Linked DNA regions of Homo sapiens. The gene in region 2 interacts genetically with the main gene of each other region. Each region holds a gene or a part of one and is shown on either strand. Other genes may lie near its edges.

What was found.
Region 1: of EPS15L1 (region 2) and AGFG1, changing one enhances a phenotype caused by changing the other (phenotypic enhancement), as found in Homo sapiens cells (one study listed by BioGRID).
Region 3: of EPS15L1 (region 2) and AGFG2, changing one enhances a phenotype caused by changing the other (phenotypic enhancement), as found in Homo sapiens cells (one study listed by BioGRID).

What each region holds. Positions count from the first base shown.
Region 1 is NC_000002.12:227,467,501-227,475,155, reverse strand, and holds the start of AGFG1 (arf-GAP domain and FG repeat-containing protein 1), read right to left. Parts: upstream 3,001-7,655; 5' UTR 2,735-3,000; coding exon 2,568-2,734; intron 1-2,567. UniProt on the Homo sapiens protein: Required for vesicle docking or fusion during acrosome biogenesis. May play a role in RNA trafficking or localization.
Region 2 is NC_000019.10:16,468,961-16,476,634, forward strand, and holds the start of EPS15L1 (epidermal growth factor receptor substrate 15-like 1), read right to left. Parts: upstream 3,011-7,674; 5' UTR 2,986-3,010; coding exon 2,953-2,985; intron 1-2,952.
Region 3 is NC_000007.14:100,542,168-100,549,202, reverse strand, and holds part of AGFG2 (arf-GAP domain and FG repeat-containing protein 2), read right to left. Parts: intron 5,737-7,035; exon of another isoform or gene 5,571-5,736; intron 2,796-5,570; exon of another isoform or gene 2,698-2,795; intron 382-2,697; coding exon 288-381; intron 1-287.

The DNA of each region.
Region 1 (7,655 bases), on a different chromosome or scaffold from region 2:
TTTTAAACCAATTAGATTCCGGTTTTGAGTTACAACCATAAAATCCAAAGTGACAGATTTTTATTAGGATATTTCTTATTTAATATCTTTCACATACAGTACTGTTCCCTTACTCATGGCATGTCCTCTTCCTTGATGCTTCTCATCTATAGGGCACTTGCTATATACCAGGCATTACGTGAGATGTTTAACATACATTATTTTTAATACTGAAAACAAATCTACATCCAAAACTTACAAGGGAAATCTTATCCTCACTGTTTCATATAAGAGAAAAATCAAGCTCAAATAGATTGAGTGACATTCTCAATACCGTATAACTAATACTTGGAGTCAGGATTCAAAGCCATGTGTACCTAGCTCATAAGTACTTGATCTTTCAAACATATGAAGCAGAATTTCTCGTTAAAGGTCTTTGCTCAGGCATCAACTCCCAGAGAAGCTGTATCATTTACATATTTCCTGGCTATCTCATTCACAGAAAGGAAATACTACAATATATTGTAACTCTACGTTTACATACTTACAAGGCACGCTCCATAGAACAGTTAAGATCCAGGTAACTTATGACACAGGACAAGTAGGCAATAAATATTTGTGGAATGACTCAATAGAGAAATGAAGTCCTATCTGCCACAGATTAAGTTCCATTAAGATAAATAATTGTCATTATACTGAGATATCCTTTTATGCACAATGTTTCTGAAATGTGGTATCTAGGAAGAAATTTGAAAATATGTCCTTGATATTACACATTTGCTGCTGTACTTACAGGGACTACACAGAAATGTCAGAAATCCGGAAGTGTAAATATATGTATTTTTTCCAAATCAAATACTTTACATGGATTAAAGGACCTGTGTTTAGTAAAAGCAGGACATACATCTTAACCATGTAATAAAAATCAAATACAATTACAATTGTTCTATTGGCTTCATTTTGGAACCAATATTGTCCAACGTAAGTAACAACTTTCTAGCTTAACTCCTTTTTCTGTAAATGAAATGCATGAACCAGGCTACCTCCTTGATATCACCTAGCTCTGTGATTCTGTAGTAATTCGAGAATATTATTAACTGGCAACTTCTCAGAGTGTCTCCCTGGCCACACAGCCTAAAAGTAACCATGAGCACTCTCCTATCAAACAATTTTCATGTTCAGCATAGTACTTGCCCAAGACATTTTTCTTACTTTTGCATCCCCACTGGACTGTAAGAACCAAGAGAACAAGACTTTGCTATATTTACTGGCACACCCCAGGGCCTTACACAACCTAATAGGCACCAAAAAAAATGTCTGCTGAAGAAATAACACTCATGTAATACTAATAATGCCTCTTTGCCCAACTTTAAAAAGCAAATAGTACATACTAGACATGTTCTGCATTTTCTAAGTTTTAAGAAATCAATTTTCCCACATAAAGTATTATGTGCTTTGTATTAATCTTACAAGCAAAGGTTTTAAAAATACTTAGTAACTGCCACGTTGTTAGTAACTTTAAATACAAGATAATAATATAAAAGCATTTTATCAATTCCAAAACCACCTGCAAATTTTCCGAATGAAATTGCACGGCAATAAAAATCTTTATCAAAATAAAGCTTAATGAAGCAAAGAACAACAAACACAAATCATCCCAGTAACTCAGGACGGTAGTGTCTTTCTGAAATCATGGTGACTTGCTAGCTCTCCTCATTTCTGTGTACAGCCAGGGCACTCGGGTATTGATAGCGAGATACAGATAAATCTCACAGATAACTCCATCATATTTAGAATCACACAGCTCCTAGTGGGTACCTTATTGCCATTAAAACTTTCCCCCAACTCCTCAACACTCTCTTCGGACCATAAAACTAAAATCCCACAGCTTCAAATCTGCTCCTCTGCCTCCCCCTCCCGCAATTAATCCTTTCGAACTTTTCCCAGGGGATTCACATCTGCCATCAAGATGCTTTCATCCTGCTACTATTCCTAAGTGCCTGCTTCCTCCCAGTTACGTAGGTACTCTCGACCCAGAAAAAAGGCACGGGCGAGGCAGGCGTCCCTCCCTCCCACCCCAGCTTCTCCCCGACCCCCAGCAGGAGCGCCCAGCAGGTGCCTCGCTCCGCACCGCGGCTCCCGGGCCGCTGAGAGGCGGGGCACACAAAGGACCCGCATGGACCTCCCCCCCGGCCTCCTAGCGTCTTCCCCCACCCCCCACAGCCCGGCGCCCCGGGTAGCTGGAGAGCGAGGGCGGCGGCCGCAGGCTCGACGGAGACCAGGGACGCTCGCCCCGGTCGCCCCCTCCCTGACCCCAACCCCGCCCACGTCCCACCCACGAAGGCTGCCCAGAACGTAAACCCTCGCCCGGCAAAACCGAAAACGCATCCCCAGCCCGGCTGCCCGGGCCCTGCGCATCCAGCCCGCAGCCTCCCACGCCGCGCCCGCCAGCCGGCGCCCAACGGCCGCCCCCGACCGCCTCCCACGGCACCCGGCTCTTTCCCAGCCCCGGAAGGGTCCCGGTCCCGCCGCCCGCTCCCCCACCTCCCGGGAAGGGCCCGACACCCGCCCGGCCGCCCCGCACTCACAGGCTGCCGGAGCAGGAGGTACACACGAAGGAGCCGACCGTCATGTTAACGTAGGTGGGGCCGCGCTGGTCGCAGTCGAAGCACTTTCGGTTGTGCGGGAGGCCGGTCATGTCCCGCAGCATCTTCAGGTGCTTCTCCTCCTGCTTCCGCTTCGCGCTGGCCGCCATGGCCGCGGCGCCAAGGGAGGAGGCCGGCAGGGCCGGGAGCCGGGCAGCGCTGCGCCGGGGGCCCGCGGTCCCACGGGCCGCCCTGGCCGCGGCCGCCGCCCTCCGTCTGCGCGCGCCGCCCGCGCCGGACCCGGCCGCAGCGGCTTGGCTGTACTGGGCTCGACGCGGCCCGGGCGCTGTGGTACGCGGGCTGACGGGCCACACCAACCGGCACAGCCGGGACAACCGCCGCCGCCGCCGCCACCTTCCCGACTTCTCCTGAGGGGAAAAGACGAGGAAGGGGACGGCAAGAGGAGGCCCGCCCTGGGCGGCCGGTAGCCAAGTGTCCGCTGGCGCCCTCTGCTGGCCAGGAGGAGTCACTGCGGCCTCGCTGAGGCATGGGCCGGGTCTGGAGCCAAGTAGGGTAGACACAATGGTGATAATAATATTAATAATAGACAGTATTTATTGAGCGCTTATATATGCAAAGCGTTTCACATGGGTTACCTTCCCCTTCTGTTTAAAACTCTTCAAGGGCTTTCCACTGCTTTGAGTATAATTCCAAATTCCTCACCGTGCCGTAAAAAGTGCTCCATAGTCTAGCCCAGTCTACCTCATTCTTCGTCGTCCTCACTCAGCCACACTGGATTTTGAGTTTTCTGAACACAGCAAGCTCCTTTCTGACTCCTGCAGGACCTTTGCCCTTGCTCTTCTCTCTTTATCTTTGGGCCAGCTAATTTGGGGGGGCTTGGGGTGTCCTGTGCACTGTAGGATACTGGGCGGCGTTCCTAGCCTATACCCACTAGATACAAGAACAAACCCCCCAATTCCCATTGCTGGCAACCAAAAATCCCCAGACATTGCCAAAAGTGGAGGGAACTTTAGGGCGGTGCAGTCACCTGGCTTGAGAACTGCTGCGTGTGGAAACCCGGATCATCCATAGCTGACATCCTCTAAGTCAGGTGGGGCTCAGATGTCACCTCCCCCGCCAGACTGTCCCAGATCAGCCGAGTTAATGTTGCAGCTCACCTTTCTCGAAGTTGCTCTCCATCAAATTGCTGCGTTGTATTTTCGTCTCAGTTCTAGCTATTTGAAATACTGCATCTTATTTCGTGTTTACCATGGGTGATCTGGACTCTCCCTTTAGGCGCTAAACAGCCTGGCCCCCGTATTTTCTGTGCCACTCCACCCCATTCCCCTCGCAGAGCTGGAGACTAGGTGTTCAATGTTGACGGAATGAATACATGAAATCGTTCATGTAATCTTCACAACAACCCTTCGAGGTGAGCGTTATTGTTATTTACATTTTACAAAACAGGAAGATGAAACCCTGAGGGATTAAGTAAATTTACCCAAGGGTACCTATGGCGAAGCTCAATTCCAACCCAGACAGCCAGACTGCAGGACCCAAATCCCCACTGCAACAATCAACTTCGTCTCTCGTTTTCCAAAGGAGTACAGGGAGACCCAGAGAGCTGAAGTTCTCAAATCACTGGGCTGTTGAATGGATTAGAATCTACGTTTCCTAACAGCCAAGACCAACCTCCACATCTCTCATGAAAGGGATTGGGTGAATCAACAAAGTGAGACTTCATATTAATATAATACTACTAATAATAATTAATGTTTTTAATATTAAAAGAAATGGACAGATAGATTGGCCAATGAATGTTTTTAAACTTTTCTATTATGGAAAATATCAAACTACCATGAGCCCATGGACCACTTTCAGCAATGATTAAGCCCATGGCTAATCTTGCTTTATAAATACCTCAACCCTCCATCCCCTCTCCTATTATTTTAAAGCAAATTCTAGGTTTCGTACCATTCATCTAAATGGTACATAGTTCCATTTGTATCCCTAAAAAATAAAAACTTTATCTCTTTCAAACTTAGCCATGATACCGTTAGCATATCTAAAAAGTTAACAATAGGCTGGGCACGATGGCGCACACCTGTAATCCCAGCACTGTGGGAGGCCAAGGCAGGTGGATTACCTGAGGTCAGGAGTTCAGGACCAGCCTGGCCTACATGGCGAAACCGGGTCTCTACTAAAAATATGAAAATTAGCCAGGCATGGTGGCATGCACTTGTAGTCCCAGCTACTTGGGAAGCTGAGGCAGGAGAATCACTTGAACCTGGGAGGCAGAGGTGGCAGTGAGCCAAGATTGTGCCACTGCACTCCAACCTGGGCAATAGAGCAAGACTCCGCCTCAAAAAAAAAAAAGTTAATAACTCCTAAAGATCATCAAATATCGCACTAGTGTTTAAGTTGGCAATTATCAATATTTTAATGAGATTTTTACAGTTTGTTTGAACCCACTCCTTGCAACTGGGTAATATGTCTCATAAGGTTTCTTTGGGTCTCTCCACCATCTCTTTTTTTTTAATTATAATTCATTTGTTTTAGTAATTGGGCACTTTATTCTGTAGAGTTTCTCATAATCTGTATCATTTAACATGTCCCTCTGTTCTATTTCCTAAAAATTGGTAGTTAGATCTAGTTCACTAGTATCCAGTTCAGTATTTTTGCGGGGCAGGCATTCATTTCATTGTGTTCTTCCATCAAGAGGGACATAATTGAGGAGAGGATATCTTTTTCATGATGTTGGTAACCATTGATGATTAATGTCTAGATTCATTAATTCATTAATGATTAGAAAATACTGATATTCTAATTCTGCCATTCTGGCTGGGTGCGGTGACTCACGCCTGTAATCCCAGCAACTTTGGGAGGCTGGGGCAGGAGGATCATCTAAGGTCAGGAGTTCGAGACCAGCCTGGCCAACATGGCGAAACCCCGTCTCTACTAAAAATACAAAAATTAGCTGAGCATGGTGGCAGGCACCTGTAATCCCAGCTACTCGGGAGGCTGGGGCAGGAGAATTGCTTGAACCCAGGAGGTGGAGGTTGCAGTGAGCTGAGATCCCACCACTGCACTCCAGCCTGGGTGACAGAATGAGACTCTGTCTCAAAAAAATAAAAAATAAAAATAAATAAATAAATAAAACTAATTCTACCATTCCTTCATTTATCAGCTCAAATTTTCTATAAAGAAAAAATTTCCCCTCATCTACCATTTTATTTGGTATAGTACATGTCAGAAAGGCAGGATAAATATTTGATTCCTTTCCTTTATTCACAAATTTTCAAAATAATGTATTGGCTTCATTTCACCTTCCAGTGGTGATCAATATATATAGACAGAGATATATAGATATATCTATATTTATATTTTGGAGACAGGGTCTCACTCAGTCACCCAGGCTGGAGTACAATGGTACAATCATAGCTCACTACAGCCTCGAACTCCTGGGCTCAAGTGTTCCTCCTGCCTCGGCACACCCCCTCAAGAAGCTAGGACCACCACTCCCGGCTAACTTTTGTATTTGTTGTAGAGACAAGCTGTCGCTATGTTGCCCAGGCTAGGCGATCAATATTTTTAAAGTGCTATTACAAACTCAAGGATTTAAATGTATTTAATATATTTTACATCCCCAGTGCTCACATTGTCTCATCATTGGCCAGTGGGAACCACTGAAAGCTGGCTTTTGAGTATTTTGACAAGACCCTTGACTTAATCCTGAAGTCAACTGAAGTTTTTGTTGTTGTTGTTGAGATGGAGTCTCACTCTGTTGCCCAAGCTGGAGTGCAGTGGTGCAATCTCAGCCCTGTCTCCTGTATTCAAGTGATTCTCCTGCCTTGGCCTCCCAAGTAACGGGGATTACAGATGCCCCCGACACCACACCCGACTAATTTTTGTATTTTTAGGAGAGATGAGGTTTCAGCATGTTGGCCAGGCTGGTCTCCAACTTTTGACCTCAAGTGATCCACCAGCCTCAGCCTCCCAAAGTGCTGGGATTATAGGCATGAGCCATTGAGACTGGCCCTGGAGTTATATTCTGACAGGGCCCCGGGCCATTCAAGAGATGAAAGCAATGTTGAATTCTTGACTGATCCAAACAGAAGGCTTACTGACCAGCCCCATGCTGGCTAAATATGACACCCAGCAGTCTCTTATTCATAACCAACAAATGCCCTCACGCCACAGCCAGTGGCTTATTTGTTTCTATATTTGCAGTGCTCCTTTGTCATTTGTTTGTTCTCTGGTTGCTCATCTCTCCATGGTCTATCATCTGATAAATTCCAAAATCAGAAGGCATGGCTGTAGCACCTTATGTATGCAAACAGTGGAATGAGTGGTTGGTTGATTATTGTGTTTTAGTTGTTTTAAAGAGACAGGAGTAAGGCTGGGCACAGTGGCTCATGCCTGTAATCCCAGCACTTTGGGAGGCCAAGGCAGGAGGATTGCTTAAGCCCAGGAGTTTAAGACCAGCCTGGGCAACATAGTAAGACCTTGTCTCTACAAAAAGAAAAAAAAAATTGATTAGCTGAGTGTGGTGGCATGTGCCTATAGTTCCAGCTACTCAGGTGGCTAAAGCCAGAGGATTGCCTGAGCCCAGCAGGTTGAGGCTGCTGTGAGCCATGGTCGTGCTACCGCACTGCAGGCTGAGTGACAGAGCGAGTGCTACCGCACTGCAGGCTGAGTGACAGAGCGAGACCCTGTCTCAAAAAAAAAAAAGAGAGAGAGAGAGACAAATGTAGGTGCAGTATTTCCAAACTATAGACCTGTAGGAAGGCGAATGTTTTCCTCAAGCTGAAAGTTTATACAACCCTTTTGGATGTTAGCTGTTTCATGCCATACATAGTATCAAAGTTGGTTTCTACTTTAAAATATCCCAAGGAGAGTTTGCTGTGTATCAAGCAAGACTACTTATTTACTTTAATTTCCGTAACTTTCATAACAACGCAGAAAGAGGTATTATTACCGCTGTTTTATATATGAGGAAACTAAGGCTCTGAAAGGCTGGCCTGCCCAAGGCCATGCCAGAAGTGAGGCATGAAGCCAGGATTCAAACCCAGATCTGGCTGCCAAGGCACC
Region 2 (7,674 bases):
AGTGAGCTATGATCCTACCACTGCACTCCAGCCTGGGGGACAGAGCGAGACCCTGTCTCAAAAATCAAAAAGATGACTTCCACAGTGGCGTGGGATTAAGTGGGAGGGAGTGGGCAAGTAGGAAGTAGAATGGCCCAGACCACTTTGGGGCATGGCAAGGAAATGGCCCATTCCAGAGTCCAGCAGGCTGGCAGAGGTGCAGGAGAGAGACACCTTCTGGACTCTAGAAGGCAGGTTTGAAGTCCTCTGCACAGAAGCTCCAGGGGAGGGAGCGCACAGAGAGATAAGATGCAGGTAGGGAGGCTGAAATTAGGGGACAAGAAGGAGAGACTGAAAGGAGAGAGGATGAAGAGTGAAGACCGACGGGCTCCAGTGTTGCGGAGTTCGAGGAGGATCGGCTGCAGCCACAGGGCACCGGGGTTAAGGACGGAGGGGCCACCGGTAACCTCGGGGAGTACAAGGAGGAAAGAGATCTGGATGCATTTCCACGGAAGGCTTTTTGGAAAGCAGAAGAGAGCTGAGCAGGGGGACAGGGAGACACACAAATCACTGAGATGCTGTTGGGAAAAAAAAATCACTCCTAAAGAGGCAGAGGTGCAGACCTTTCGAATTTACGTTGATATTCAGGGTCAGAAAAGAGTATATAAGGAAGGAGATTCTGAGATGATGTCATGGAGTACAGAACAGACTGAAAAAGATGCTGATGGGAAAAGTGCAGACAGGAGTGGGGGTGGAGAAAACACACCCCTCCTCCCCTAGGCTAGCCCGCTGGGTTATCCACTTTGCTCACCTTCACCTGGCCATCTGCTTGCCAAGTGTGCTCTGTCACCTAAATCCAACCAGATCACAGCCACCTGCTGCAGGGTGCTTCCCTTTTGCCCCCAACCAAAAATTTTGGAATTATACCCTTGGTTCCCCCAGAGTTATCTGTGAACCCAAGTGATCTCCTGAGCTAGACAGTAAGGGCCTGGGAGGGCCATGCCTCACACCTGGGCCAACAGTAACCCATGGTGTAGATTTTCACTCGAGAGCAAGTGTAAAGAAGTGCTGACATTTCCAAACGAAGAAAACCAGGCCACGCCTTCATTCAACAAATGTATAGGGAAAGGAACAGGAAGAGGCTAAGAAGTCAGTGACCTGGCCAGGCGCAGTGGCTAACGCCTGTAATCCCAGCACTTTGGGAGGCCAAGGCGGGTGGATCACTCGAGTTCAGGAGTTTGACACGAGCCTCGCCAAAATGGTGAAACCCCGTCTCCACTAAAAAAAAAATACAAAAATTAGCCGGGTGTGGTAGCACGTGCCTGTAGTCCCAGCTACTCAGGAGGCTGAGGCAGGAGAATCACTTGAACTCGGGAGGCGGAGGTTACAGTGAGCTGAGATCATGCCACTGCACTCCACCCTGGGTGACAGAGCAATACTCCATCTCAAAAAAAAAAAAATTGGACAGGAAGTTTTAGAAAGATCCACGCCTCCCAAACTGGGAGTGCTTAGTGCTTTCTCATGAAATGATCTTAGGTGATTTTCCCCCGACTCCCGCCTTCCCCGCCCCCCACCCCCTGACTACATACTCTAAACTGTAGCACTTAGCTATTAACACCTATTATCGGTAGGACACTTAACAGTTTACAGAGCACTTTCATGTCAGTAACAAGAACTTGCTAATTAATAATCACCGGGTTTTAGCACTGTTAACTTAGTGACAGTGTTGCAAATTGGCTAGCTGTGCACTTCTCTCTCCTTGGATCAGCTAACCAGTCATGCAAGCATGCAACCGGCCTATCAACTCTCTTTGGGTTTGGAATTCTTAATTGCTGCGGTCTCTACTCCCAAACGTCCAAATCTGGCAGAGATTAAATGATGACAGTAATTATAGGATCACTGAGTGCCTCTCATATGCTAGGCACTGTTCTAAGCGCTTTTTCACGTGCTTAATTTTCACATAATCCCAACACATTTTTATATCTCCATTTTCCAAAGGAAGCAACTGATGGGTGGAATGGCTAAGAGCTTCAACCAAAGGCACAGAGAAATCGGGGCTGGAGCCAAGATTTGAACACATGATCTGACCCTGTGTCCTCACTCTTAATCACCATGCTGTGCTAGATCATTCTAGCAAAATGCTTATATGGTGCTTTGCACAACACAGGTATTCAGCAAATAAAGGCAGCTGTGATTAGCATAACACAGGTAGTTTCTAGTTCCCACGAGTGTCACCTCCAGGAAAGCAGCGACCTTGTCTGTCTGGAAGAATGCAGCGCTCCCAGCACCTGACCCAACGCACATTTGAGGGATGGATAGAAAATGAATGAATGAAAGTCTCTCCCAAATAACAGAGCTGCCTACGCATGGCTCTTTTTCGCATGTCTGTGTCGCGCTATCGATACTGCCCCTTCATAAGCGCATCAGGCGAATTTGAGGACACAGAGAGGCGCCCGGAGACGTACGATCTGCGCCCGGTGCAGGGGTGGCGGAAGCAGCTTCCAAGGAGGCAGGGGATCAGTCTGAGATCGCACTGCTGCTGACGGGTCCGGGCTCCGGCGGGACCCTGCCCGCCCGGGCGCCGGGACCGGAGGGAGACAAAGACTCGCTGGGCCGCCGCGCCGACAGAAACGCTCGCACCCCTCGCCCACCCCTCCGGGATGCAGCCCAGCGCCTCCGCGGGTCCCCGGCCTGGGAGCTTCAGCGGCGGCAGGGTCCGGGCCCTGGGCGGAGAGGACACGCGCTGCGCACCTCCTCGCCTCGCCGGTGCCCGCGAGGGTCGCTCGGGCACGGGAGGCCGCGGGTCCCGGCCTGTCACCTTCAGGGCCGCCTGCCCACCCGCCCGCCGCAAGCCCTTCAGCACGCGCCGCCCCCGCCGCCGCCTGGCTGAGTCTCCCAGCGCCTCAGCCTCGCCGCACCGCTCGCCTCGCGCCCCGCACCCCGGCGCCGCCCCCAGGCCCGCCCGGCCCGTACCTGCTGGGAGAGGGGGATGAGCGGCGCCGCCATCTTCCCGCGGACTCGGGCTCCGAGCGCCGGGGGAACGGGGGCGGGGCTGCAGCCACGCGTGCGCACTGGGACGACGGGAGGGCGGTGCGCAGGCCGCCTGTCCCGGGAGAGGGCGGGGCCGTAGACAGGGCCACGCATGTGCAGTCAGGCCGGGAGGGGCGGGGGCAGGGGCGGGGCCGCCCACACGCAGCCTGGAGGGGCTGGGCCTGAGGCATCTGCGTCTTCCGTGCTCTCTTGCCCGTTCCCCTACTCCTCCTTCCAACGTTGTTCGGACTCTCATGCCGCTGGCCGCTGTCCGAGTCGACCATGCTGTGTCATCCCTCCAGCCCATGCCGAGGCCTGGTTCTCTGTTAGGGATGCCGTCCCCCTGCCAGTGCGCCTGGGGAGGCGGTCGCCCACCCCGCGGAGGGTCGGGACCCTCACCCTGCCCCGCAAAGCGCCCTGTTCCTAGGATCGCAGTGTGTGTGTGTGTGTGTGTGTGTGTGTGTGCGCGCTAATTTGGGGGACCCGCACCCTGCCCCCCTCACCCTGCCCCGCAAGGCGTCCTCCTGGCTGTGGTGGCGGGCACCTGAAATCCAAGCTACTCAGGAGACTGAGGCAGGAGAATTGCTTGAGCCCAGGAAGCAGAGGTTTCAGTGAGCCAAGATCACACCATTGCAATCCAGCCTGGGCAACAGAAGCGAAACTCTGTCTCAAAAATAAATAAATAAATAAGACAAGAACCCACTTGTTGCCAGGTACAGTGGCTTACACCTGTAATCCCAGCACTTTGGGAGGCCGAGGTGGGAGGGTCATGAGGTCAGGAGTTGGAGACCAGCCTGGCCAGTATGGTGAAACATCAATATGGTGAAACCCCATCTCTACTAAAAAAAATACAAAAATTAGCAGGTGTGGTGGTGCATGCCTGTAGTCCCAGCTACTCAGGAGGCTGAGGCCAGAGAATCACTTGAACCCGGGAGGTGGAGGTTGCGGTGAGCCAAGATTGCACCACTGCACTCCAGCCTGGGTGACAGAGTGAGACTCTGTCTCAAAACAAAGTCAAAAACAAAAAGAACCCACTTGTAACTGTTGCTAATCAAAGCATACATTCAGGGCAACTTGAATCTGTGTCTCCTGGACTGCGGTCCTCAACCTTGGCCCAAACTCTCTACTTATATTAACTTTGCCTCAGCTTCTTTTGTTACATCAATAGAGTAATGAAGGTTTTTAACAGTCTTGAGTGCTTTATCAGTACGTATTCCATAAGGAAAAGAGAAGTCCTTCTAGGTACTTCAAACAGAGGATATTGAATACAGGGGATTGAGCCAGGCTCTGTGGCTCACACTTGTAATCCCAGCAATCCAGTTGAGACAGGTAGATTGATACCAGCCTGGCCAACATGGAGAAACCCCATCTTTACTAAAAATACAAAAATTAACCCAGTGCAGTGGCAGGTGCCTGTAATCCCAGCTACTCAGGAGGCTGAGGCAGGAGAATTGCTTGAACCTGGGAGGGGAAGGTTGCAATAAGCTGAGAACTCACCATTGCACTCCAACCTAGGTGACAGAGCGAGACTCTGTCTAAAAAATAAATAAATAAAAATAAATGAATACATAAACGACTACAGGGGACTGAGTATAAAAGTGTTGGAAGTACTGGAAGAACAAAAGAGGAAGGTAAGTTTACCTAAAGATTCATAACTATATGAGGCTGCTAGCCTCTCTAGAGCTGAAAGATTAAAGCAGGGGAGGTGGCTGGGCATAGTGGCTCACGCCTGTAATCCCAGCACTTTGGGAGGCCGAGGTGGATGGATCACCTGAGGTCAGAAGTTTGAGACCAGCCTGGCCAACATGATGAAATCCCGTGTCTACTAAAAATACAAAAATTAGCCGGTTGTGGTGGTGGGCACCTGTAATCCCAGCTACTCGGGAGGCTGAGGCAGGAGAATCACTTGAACCTGGGAGGCGGAGGTTGCAGTGAGCTGAGATCACGCCACTGCACTCCAGTTTGGGCAACAAGAGCGAAACTCCGTCTCAAAATAAATAAATAAATAAAGCACAGGAGGACCCATAACCCACAATCACTGTGCCTACAGAAGGATCCCAGATGTGTTCACCCTTGCTAGCCACAGTTGCCTCCACCATGATTGCGAAAGTCACAGTTGTTGTTGTCACCACCACCTAAGCCACTGGCAGAAGTCTGAAAAAATGGTTTCTCCCCTCTTTCTGCCTCCCAACTTTGTTCTAATAAAGCATGACAGGAACGTTGCCAATTGGCAACGGCGTCCAGGAAATGTAGCATGCAGGCTTTAAGTGCCAGTATCAGAGTCTAGAATGGTGGTGGCCATAGAAACTCTCCAGCATCATCTTGTAAAAATAATCCAAACTTGGCTGGGCGCGGTGGCCCACACCTGTAATTCCAGCCCTTTGGAGGGCCGAGGCAGGCAGTTCACGAGGTCAGGAATTCGAGACCAGCCTGGCCAACACAGTGAAACCCCATCTCTACTAAAAATACAAGAATTAGCCAGGCGTGGTGGCGGGTGCCTGTAATCCCAGCTACTCGGGAGGCTGAGGCAGGAGAATTGCTTGAACCTGGGATGGGGAGGTTGCAGTGAGCCAAGATCGCACCATTGCACTCCAGCCTGGGCAACAAGAGCAAAACTCCGTCTCAGAAGAAAAAAAAGAAAAAAAAAAAGGCCGGGCATGGTGGCTCACGCCTGAAATCCCAACACTTTGGAAGGCCGAGGCAGGCAGATCATGAGGTCAGGAGATCGAGACCATCCTGGCCAACATGGTGAAACCCCATCTCTACTAAAAATACGAAAATTTAGCCGGGCATGGTGGGGGGTGCCTGTAGTCCCAGCTACTTGTGAGGCTGAGGCAGGAGAATGGCATGAACTCAGGAGGCGGGTCTTGCAGTGAGCCGAGATCGCGCCACTGCACTCCAGCCTGGGCAACACAGAAACTTCGTCTCAAAAAAAAAAAAAAAAATCCAAACTTAATCATACACTTTTGAACCCTAAGAATTATGTTGAGCCTTGAAGAAAACGGGACTGTGTGATCTGAGCCAGACAGCATGTAACTACAACTTCTGCTTATAGATTATAGATTAACTCTCCTGTTCTTGCTCTGTAGATTCATTTCAAGACTAAATGGCATCAGCGTTAAGATCGCCCTTCTTCATTGCTGACCTTTCCTCTATTATCTTGCACCTAAATCAGACCAGATAGTGCAAAAGGTCCTGTGACTGTTATGTCCTCTATGTGAATGTTAAATATACCCTTCCCAAAAAGACCACTGCCTTGACTAATCAGATTACTGTTAACTATGTACTTGCCTTGTGTGAAATATGTAGAAACGCTGTCAAGCTTCCCAAACCTTACCTATATAAATGACCCCCAAACTTCCTCAGTTTGGAATGCTGATTTCCATTCTTTGGAATCTGTGTTCCAGGGTGGCCGTCCTCAAACTTTTGTGCTAAACTAAACTCTATATTTAACCATATTTCCTGAATTTATTTATTTAGGGTTGATGTTTTGATGATCCAGATGGGATCTGAAGTGGAGTTCCAGTGATCCCTGCCACTTCTCACAATCAGACCCTTTGTACTGTTACCGCAAAGGGGTCTTGATCCAGACCCCGAGAGGGTTCTTGGATCTCACCCAAGAAAGAATTAGTGCGAGTCCATACAGTAAAGTGAAAGCAAGTTTATTAGGAAAGTAAAGGAATAAAGGAATGGCTACTTCATAGAGCAGCCCCAAGGGCTGCTGGTTGCTTTTTTTTTTTGGGAGAAGTTTCACTGTTGTTGCCAGGGCTGGAGTGCAATGACGGGATCTCAGCTCACCACAACCTCCACCTCCTGGGTTCAAGTGGTTCTCCTGCCTCAGCCTCCTGAATAGCTGGGATTAGAGACATGCACCACCACGCCCAGCTAATTTTGTATTTTTAGTAGATGTGGGGTTTCTCCATGTTGGTTAGGCTGGTCTTGAACTCCCAACCTCAAGTGATCCGCCTGCCTCGGCCTCTCAAAGTGCTGGAATTACAGGCTTGAGCCACTGTGCCTGGCCAGGTTGCTCATTTTTATGGTTATTTCTTGATGATATGCTAGACAAGGGGTGGATTATTCATGCCTTCCCTTTTTACTTATTTATGTATTTATTTATTTATTTTTTGAGACGGAGTCTCGCTCTGTCACCCAGGCTGGAGTGCAGTGGCGCGATCTCGGCTCACTGCAAGCTCCGCCTCCCGGGTTCACGCCATTCTCCTGCCTCAGCCTCCCGAGTAGTTGAGACTACAGGCACCCACCACCACGCCCGGCTAATTTTTTTGTATTTTTAGTAGAGACAGGGTTTCACTGTGTTAGCCAGGATGGTCTCGATCTCCTGACCTCGTGATCCACCCATCTCAGCCTTCCAAAGTGCTGGGATTACAGGCGTGAGCCACCGCGCCCGGCCCCCTTTTCAGGCTGCCATATACAGTAACTTCCTGATGTTGCCATGACCTTTGTAAACTGCCATGGCGCTGGTGGGAGTGTAGCAGTGAGGACCACCAGAGGTCACTCCCATCACTATCTTGGTTTTGGTGGGTTTTAGCCGGCTTCTTTACTGCAACCTGTTTTATCAGCAAGGTCTTTAGTGCTGACCTCCTATCTCATCATGTGGCTAAGAATGCCTTAACCGCCTGGGAATGCAGCCCAGTAGGTCTCAGCCTT
Region 3 (7,035 bases), on a different chromosome or scaffold from region 2:
GCTCACGCTCTGGAGCTCTGGTCATTCTACCCCTCCATTGCTCAGGTGCCACATCCTACAACGATATTGCTACTTCCCCTGACTCCTGAAAAGGAGGCCTAGACAAACCATGATTTGTATAACAGAATAAAGATTCTGTAAATATACCTAAGGAAAGAAATCATACATATGAAAAAATTAAGAGAAACTCAACCAAAAATAAAACCGTAAGGTTTCCCTACAATCTTGAGGCAAAGCCCCACCTGCAGATAGGTGACCTTCTCACCACTCCATCGGTGGCAGCTCACCTCATTTCCACGGGATTGCAGGAATACTACTTCAGGCTCAGTGAAAGTTGTCATGGAGATTGACTTGACACGATGAGGGGGGTTCAGCCCTCTCCTATGGGAGAGAAACAGGAAGAAAGAGAAGTATAATGCAGTTAGCATGGCAGGCTGTTCATGGGAGGAGGAGGAGGAGGGAGAAAGGGTGAAAGAATAGCATATAAACTAAGCTCAGATAGAACCCCCCCATCTGAAGCTACTTCCTAATTCCAGGAAAGAAGGGAAATATTTGGAATATTTTGGAGATATTAGAAGTCTCCAAAGAGAGGCCAGGCACAGTGACTCACACCTGTAATCCCAGCACTTTAGAAGGCCGAGGCAGGCAGCTCACTTGAGGCCAGGAGTTCGAGACCAGCCTGGCCAATATGGTGAAAACCTGTCTCTACTAAAAATACAAAAATTAGCCGGGCATGGTAGTGCACGCCTGTAATCTCAGCTACTCAGGAGGCTAAGGCACAAGTATCGCTTGAACCTGGGAGGCAGAGGCTACAGTGAGCCAAAATCACCCCACTGCACTCCATCCTGGGCAACAGCAAGACTCTGTCCCCACTCCCACCACCCCCCTCCAACCCCCAAAAAAAAGAATCTCCAAAGAGACAGGGAAGAGAGAGTCAGGAACATCCTGTGATCCCAGTAGTTCTGGAGAGGAAAGGTAGAGCCTGCCCATCCAGAAGCCTCCTCTAGCCTGGCTCAGATCCCAGTAGTTTCAGTGTTCAGCCTGTAGGCCGAGGGGGGTACTTCTGGGAACTCAGACACGTGACCACTTCCCACTTCCTACTTTATCATTGTTTTAGACCTACAGCCCATCCCCAAGGTCCCAGGGCCCACAAAAACACAAATCCTTCAAGCATGAGGGAAGGCAAAAATGAAGGCCCAGTACTATTCTTGATAACACTAACAAAAACAGGATATGGTGACAAAAAACAGTCTCTAGCCCAGCTGGTCCTCCTTGTGTCTACAAAGAAGGGTGGAGTGGTGGTGGGATGGAGAGGGTCCCTCTCTTTCAGGAAGCCATCTCTAGGAAAAGAAATATTTGATTTTCTTATTTCTGTATCTCTCAATAAAGCAGGAAGAAGTCAAGTTCAACCATGAGCTATAAGGCTGGCATGGGCGAGGAATATGTAACCTGTGGCAATGCTTTTGTGCCTCCTCTGTATGTTCTGTTAACTCCCTGGGAATCCAGTTCTGCCTCCAGGAACCCTGTGGAGATTATAAGAGAAGAGAAGGCTTCCTTGTCCCCACTCAACTGGTCTCAGGAGTGTTCTAATACAGGAAACTTGGGGCTAAGCCAGGCAGGGCTTCATAGGTTCCCCTGTCCTTGCACCTTAAGTATTATTCTGGTCTAGGTCTACTACCCTCACTGGATTAAACAAAACTGCCCAAACCAAAACAAGCTAGATCCTGGGACAGGAGGGAAGCAGTCTCAGCAGATGAGGCCTCTTCAGACTTTTACTCTCATGGAAAAAAAAAAAATGGCCAAATCGAGTTGCTCAAATAAAAATCCAGAATAGGGTCCTGGCTGACATCCTCAGGAAGCGCAAAGGGGGAAAAAGAGACAAAAATATTTAACAGATGAAAATCCTGAAAATTCACAAAGAAGGTGGGGAAAACATACATTCACACTAACAGGTGCACACACAGAATCCAAGTGCTCCTGCCAAGTCTGGGAGAACAGCAGCGAGGTGTAAGCAAAAGCAGCGGTGGTGGGGGTGGGGGGCAGGGAGTGGGCGGACTCAGTACAGAGTGAACAGTAAGGGCGGCCACCCTGCGGATGATAAATTACTCATTATGGGATTTTAACAAAGGACAGGACACTGGAGGCTCCAGTTGACGCTGTTTGCAGCAATTCTGCTGCTAGACCTTTAGGTATAAAGGGTCTCAAAAATGCTCTTATAAAAGACAAGCAATATCAAAGAGGACTGATGCCCCCAAGGAAAGATAAGCTCAGGGAAAAACGAAAGCAAGGCTTTGTTACTACATATCAAACAATAGCTCTTAAGCTTGGTCTGCCCCGAAGACTGTCTTCCGATCACATTTCAGAGATAGTCCATTCTCTCTCCTAAGGCCTCTCTTGCTAATGGCTTGGTTTGGTTTTGCTTTTAATTCTAGCCAGCCTGCTTTTAGACTTTCTCACCTTAACCACTAGGCCCTTCCCCTTCAGAATGTCAGGGCTTTCTGAAGTCTAGCCAGACCTCATTGTCCCTGTGATCTCAAAGGTCTTCTCCTTCACCTCCTACAAACAAAATTTACTTTGCCAAAACACAAGGCATTATGGGAGGCACTGTGGGGGATACAAAAATTATAGGACAGAGTTATCTTATCACCAGGAGCTCACAAGAAGAACCCAGGAAGCCTGGACAAAGGTACTTCTTACTGCAGTAGGGTGCTATTCAGTCAGGCACTGATGGATCAGGGAGAACGTGACTCCAGGATGCAGCAGTTGCGGAAGGAAGAGAAACAGTCATGGGGAAGGTAAAATGTATTATGTTTACACTAGAAAAACAGATTCTAAGCCTATCACAAAAAGGTCATTGACATTTCCTGAATGGATAACCAGGAACTGTTAGCGAACTGTAAACAGGGAGGTATGCTTCCTTGTTAGGGGGAGGAGGCAGGACTCAACCCAGGCATCAATCAAAATGGGATGCTTAGAACAGAACTTATGGTTGAGCCTGGACTAAAAGAGTTTATTTTTGGTGGGGGTGGCGGGCGGGGGGGGCGGCAGACGTGACAGGATGATGGGAAGGCAGAGAAAATAAGAAATGATTTAGGTGCTTTGGGCCAAATGAATCTGATGGAACAGGATGTTTCCATAGCACAGTACAAAAAGCATTGCTCTGACCTTGATGTCTGTAGACTGGATTTTGTACAACCAGAGCCACAGTCTGGGGGCAGGGAGAATTCTCTACAAGGCAACACTGCAGCCTAGGAAGGGGGCCTAGTTACATGGCCTATGAGTCAGAGTTTTTCTTTCTGAATCACAGAGAGGCCACTGCTGGCCAAAAGAAGCAATTTAGAAACGAGAGCCCCCTTCCTCCTGGTAGCTAAAACCATGTGGCCTAGGTGTGCTGCATTTCACTGGGTACACACCAGGGTCATGCAGCGGACCAGATGTGAGTCACTGGCCTGGAATTAAACAGGCCCAGCTCTCCCACTTGCACCCAGCTCCCCAACATAACTCTCAGGTTCCTCCCAAAAGAGGTAATCACAGCAAATTCATTCTGGTATTTCTAACCAGGAAGTGCTGGGGAGGAACAGAGATCAATTTATTTTCTCAGAATAGAGTAAGTTTTTCCAATGGAAAGTACATTATTACTAGGACTCAAGCCTCCAGCCAGTCAGGTTGTCTTTATCCACTTCAGTTTCTTTTTCACAGGGCACCTAAAGGGCATATGAAGTATTCTGAATTATTTGGCAGCTGAAGCCACTTGTATGTGTAGCTGCTAACAACTGCCCAGTCCTCTCTCTTTCCCTCCCTCCCGTCTCCTCTCTGATTCCATTAGGCATAGTACTATTTCCACAAATACCACACCTTTTGTTTTTCTGTGATCATCACCCTCATGCTGGCCCATATTTTTGCTTCTATCTTGCTTCATAAAAGCATCAAACCTGCTCAGCTGCTCAGATAAGAAAGTTCTGCCAGGTCAACAATGGAAAAAAACCAGTTCCACCCAGCACCCAAGTTCTTTTTCATTTGTGCCAAATTTGGACTTGGGAAATCCTTGCCTTTGAACAATTGTGTTCAGATTCATACACCCCAGATCGTGTTTCTTTGCTCTGGGATTTCACTCCTCTGCTTCTGAACAGGATACAACTAAACCAGTTTAGCTCTTATCTTGGATGCAAACATCACCATGAAGAGTCCCTGTTAGGAACTTTTAATAGTCCCTAAGAGGAAGGCTCTCCTATTACCCTGCTCCAGGGTCAATTTCACTAATTTTAGGAACCCTCTTCCTGATCTAAATTCTGCTTCAACCCATTTCCTTTGTTCCTCCTCAGCAGCAATGATAAACAGCTGTCCTGTTGATTAGAGCCAGGTAGACTCCTGATAGCATCCAGCCGCCCTTCCCTTTAGGCTCAACCTCAATCTTTTTTACATGTCTCCCTCTGCCCTCACCTCTCTCATCCCCACCCCCCCGCCCACCACCCCACGTCGAGCTTTTTCTCATCCCTTTAGTAATTTATCACTTCCTTCGGGGCTTTTCAAGTGGTTCATGCACCCCTTATGAAACAGCACCTACATCTGTAATTTAGTGAGAGACTCTGTCCACCTCTGCCCAGCAGAGGTCAACATGAAAGGTGACAGAGGAGGGGATGGAGGGATGGGACTAAAACAGGGGCAAGGTACATGTGTACCTCTCCAACCCAGACAGATGGAAAAGTACTGAATTATTGAAGAACATACTGTACCTTTCCTCCCATGGAGATTAAAATGCTTCAACTAAGAACCACCAGCAAGCCCGACAGGGAAAGTAAGGCACAAGGAGGGCAGGAACTTGTCACAAATAAAGAGCTGTCAAGTGCATTCTTGACACCCAGCCCAGAGCTCTGCCCACCTTAATTCTGACTCCTGTGATCACAGTAAAGTTGGGCAGAAATAGAAGAGATAAGTGTCTATTACAAACACCTGAAGAACGATGGATTGAAGATGGACCCAAACAGCCACATCAAGGAAATATGTCATACTTTGCTGAAAAAACTGGGTGTCAAAGTTAGCGTCCATCCTTGTGTCAATGAGATCTCAGGCCTCAACATCCATTTTCTTTCTGAGGAACAGTGGTTCATTCACAGACGCATTCAGGCAAACCAGAACAAGAAAGAACATTTAAAGCACTGCTTTGCAAATAGATGCTTTTTAGCAGCAATTTTTACCACGTCTTAAGATTCAAATGACAGATTCATCCTCCAAGAATTAGAAATGTAACTAAACAAACAAGCATATGTGTATGTTGGGGAAATTAAACAGATCCACATCTAGGTTAAGGAAATTAGGTACTGGAAGAAAACCAAATGAATAAAACTAGGTCAGGTGTGGGACCTACAATTGTGGCAGTATGTATGTAAATTTAGGAACAGCAGAAACTAGCAGCCTTTCTCTCAACCCCTCACACCAACGCTGTAGGTTTTTGCTACAGCTGAGAAAATATTTCTCATTAAAAAAGAGAGAACAAGAATGAGTTCATACATGCAGGGATGCAGGCAGAGTCATACCCACCCACCAATATTAAAATGTGTGTTTTTCTTCAGATCTTAGGAAATTCAACTTTGGCTGGAACCATCAACTTTGCTACATCGGCCAATCCAACCAGCTGGGAATTCTAGTAATTTTGCTCACTGCCCCCAGACGACTCTATCCCCTTATGAAGGAGACATATTTGTAACCCACTGAACAGAAAACTGGCCTTTAAAATAATGTCATCCTGCTGTCTCCTTTCTGTGGCTACGGTGCTAATGTGGTATTTCAATTTCTTCCCTCAATATCCTCTTCATTTTAACAAAGAATATTTCTTCTCGAGGCCAGGCACAGTGGCTCACGCCTGTAATCCCAGCACTTTGGGAGGCCAAGGCAGGTGGATCACCTGAGGTCAGGAGTTTGAGACCAGCCTGGCCAACATGGTGAAACCCCGTCTCTACTAAAAATACAAAAATTAGCTGGGCGTGGTGGTGTGCACATGTAATCCCAGCTACCTGGGGAGGCTGAGGCAGGAGAATCGCTTGAAACCAGGAGGTGGAGGTTGCAGTGAGCCAAGATCGGACCACTGCACTCCAGCCTGGGCGACAGAGCGAGACTCCATCTCAAAAAAAAAAATTAATAATAATATTTCTTCTCTTTGCATCATACCTCAGTTTGGTATCACTCTAACCCACAGAGCTTCATTTTACTTCATAGCTTTTAGCAATACAGAACGATTTCTTTATAGTCCATGGCTTCCACTAGGATGTCAGCTCCGTGAAAATGGGAACTTATCACTACTGTATCTCCAGTACCTAAAACAGTGTCTGGCGCTTGATAGGCACTGAATAAGTTCGTGTTGACTGACCGAATGAATAAACATGCAGGCTGTCAGCCGACCACAATTTTCACTTCCCACCAACACCAAACCCTAATCTACAGGTAATCAATCATGGGGATTTAAGATGCTAATTGGTCTCCGTGCCACCATGGAGCCATGCCTCCAGAAATAAGCATCCCCTGCCTCACATTCTGCCTTACAGCCCACCTGCCAGCTCCCACTCCTTCCCACAGCATATCAAAGGGACACAGGTAATACTGTGTTAAGACCCCTTTACAAGGATTATATGCCTTGCCCTTGTCATGCTAATTATAGGGAAACTCCAGCTTTCTTGCAGAGTTTCTCCTGAAATTTCTCACTCTCAACATACCTTCAATTCAGCTTCATTTACTGGCCTAACCTCTTGATCTTTCATTTCACTCTCATTTCCTACTAACAAAGGGTTGGTCTAGCTTCTCATTTCCCAAACACCAAAATATGCTCTCTAAATCCTCCTCTGTGAGAATCACTCCCTGGTTTAGTCTCATAATGCTTTACCAAAAAGCTAAGCAGGCTGGGTGCCGTGGCTCACGCCTGTAATCCCAGCACTTTGGGAGGCGAGGCGGGCGGATCACTTGAGATCAGGAGTTCGAGACCAGCCTGACCAACATGGCAAAACCCCGTCTCTACTAAAAATACAAACATTAGCCAGATGTGGT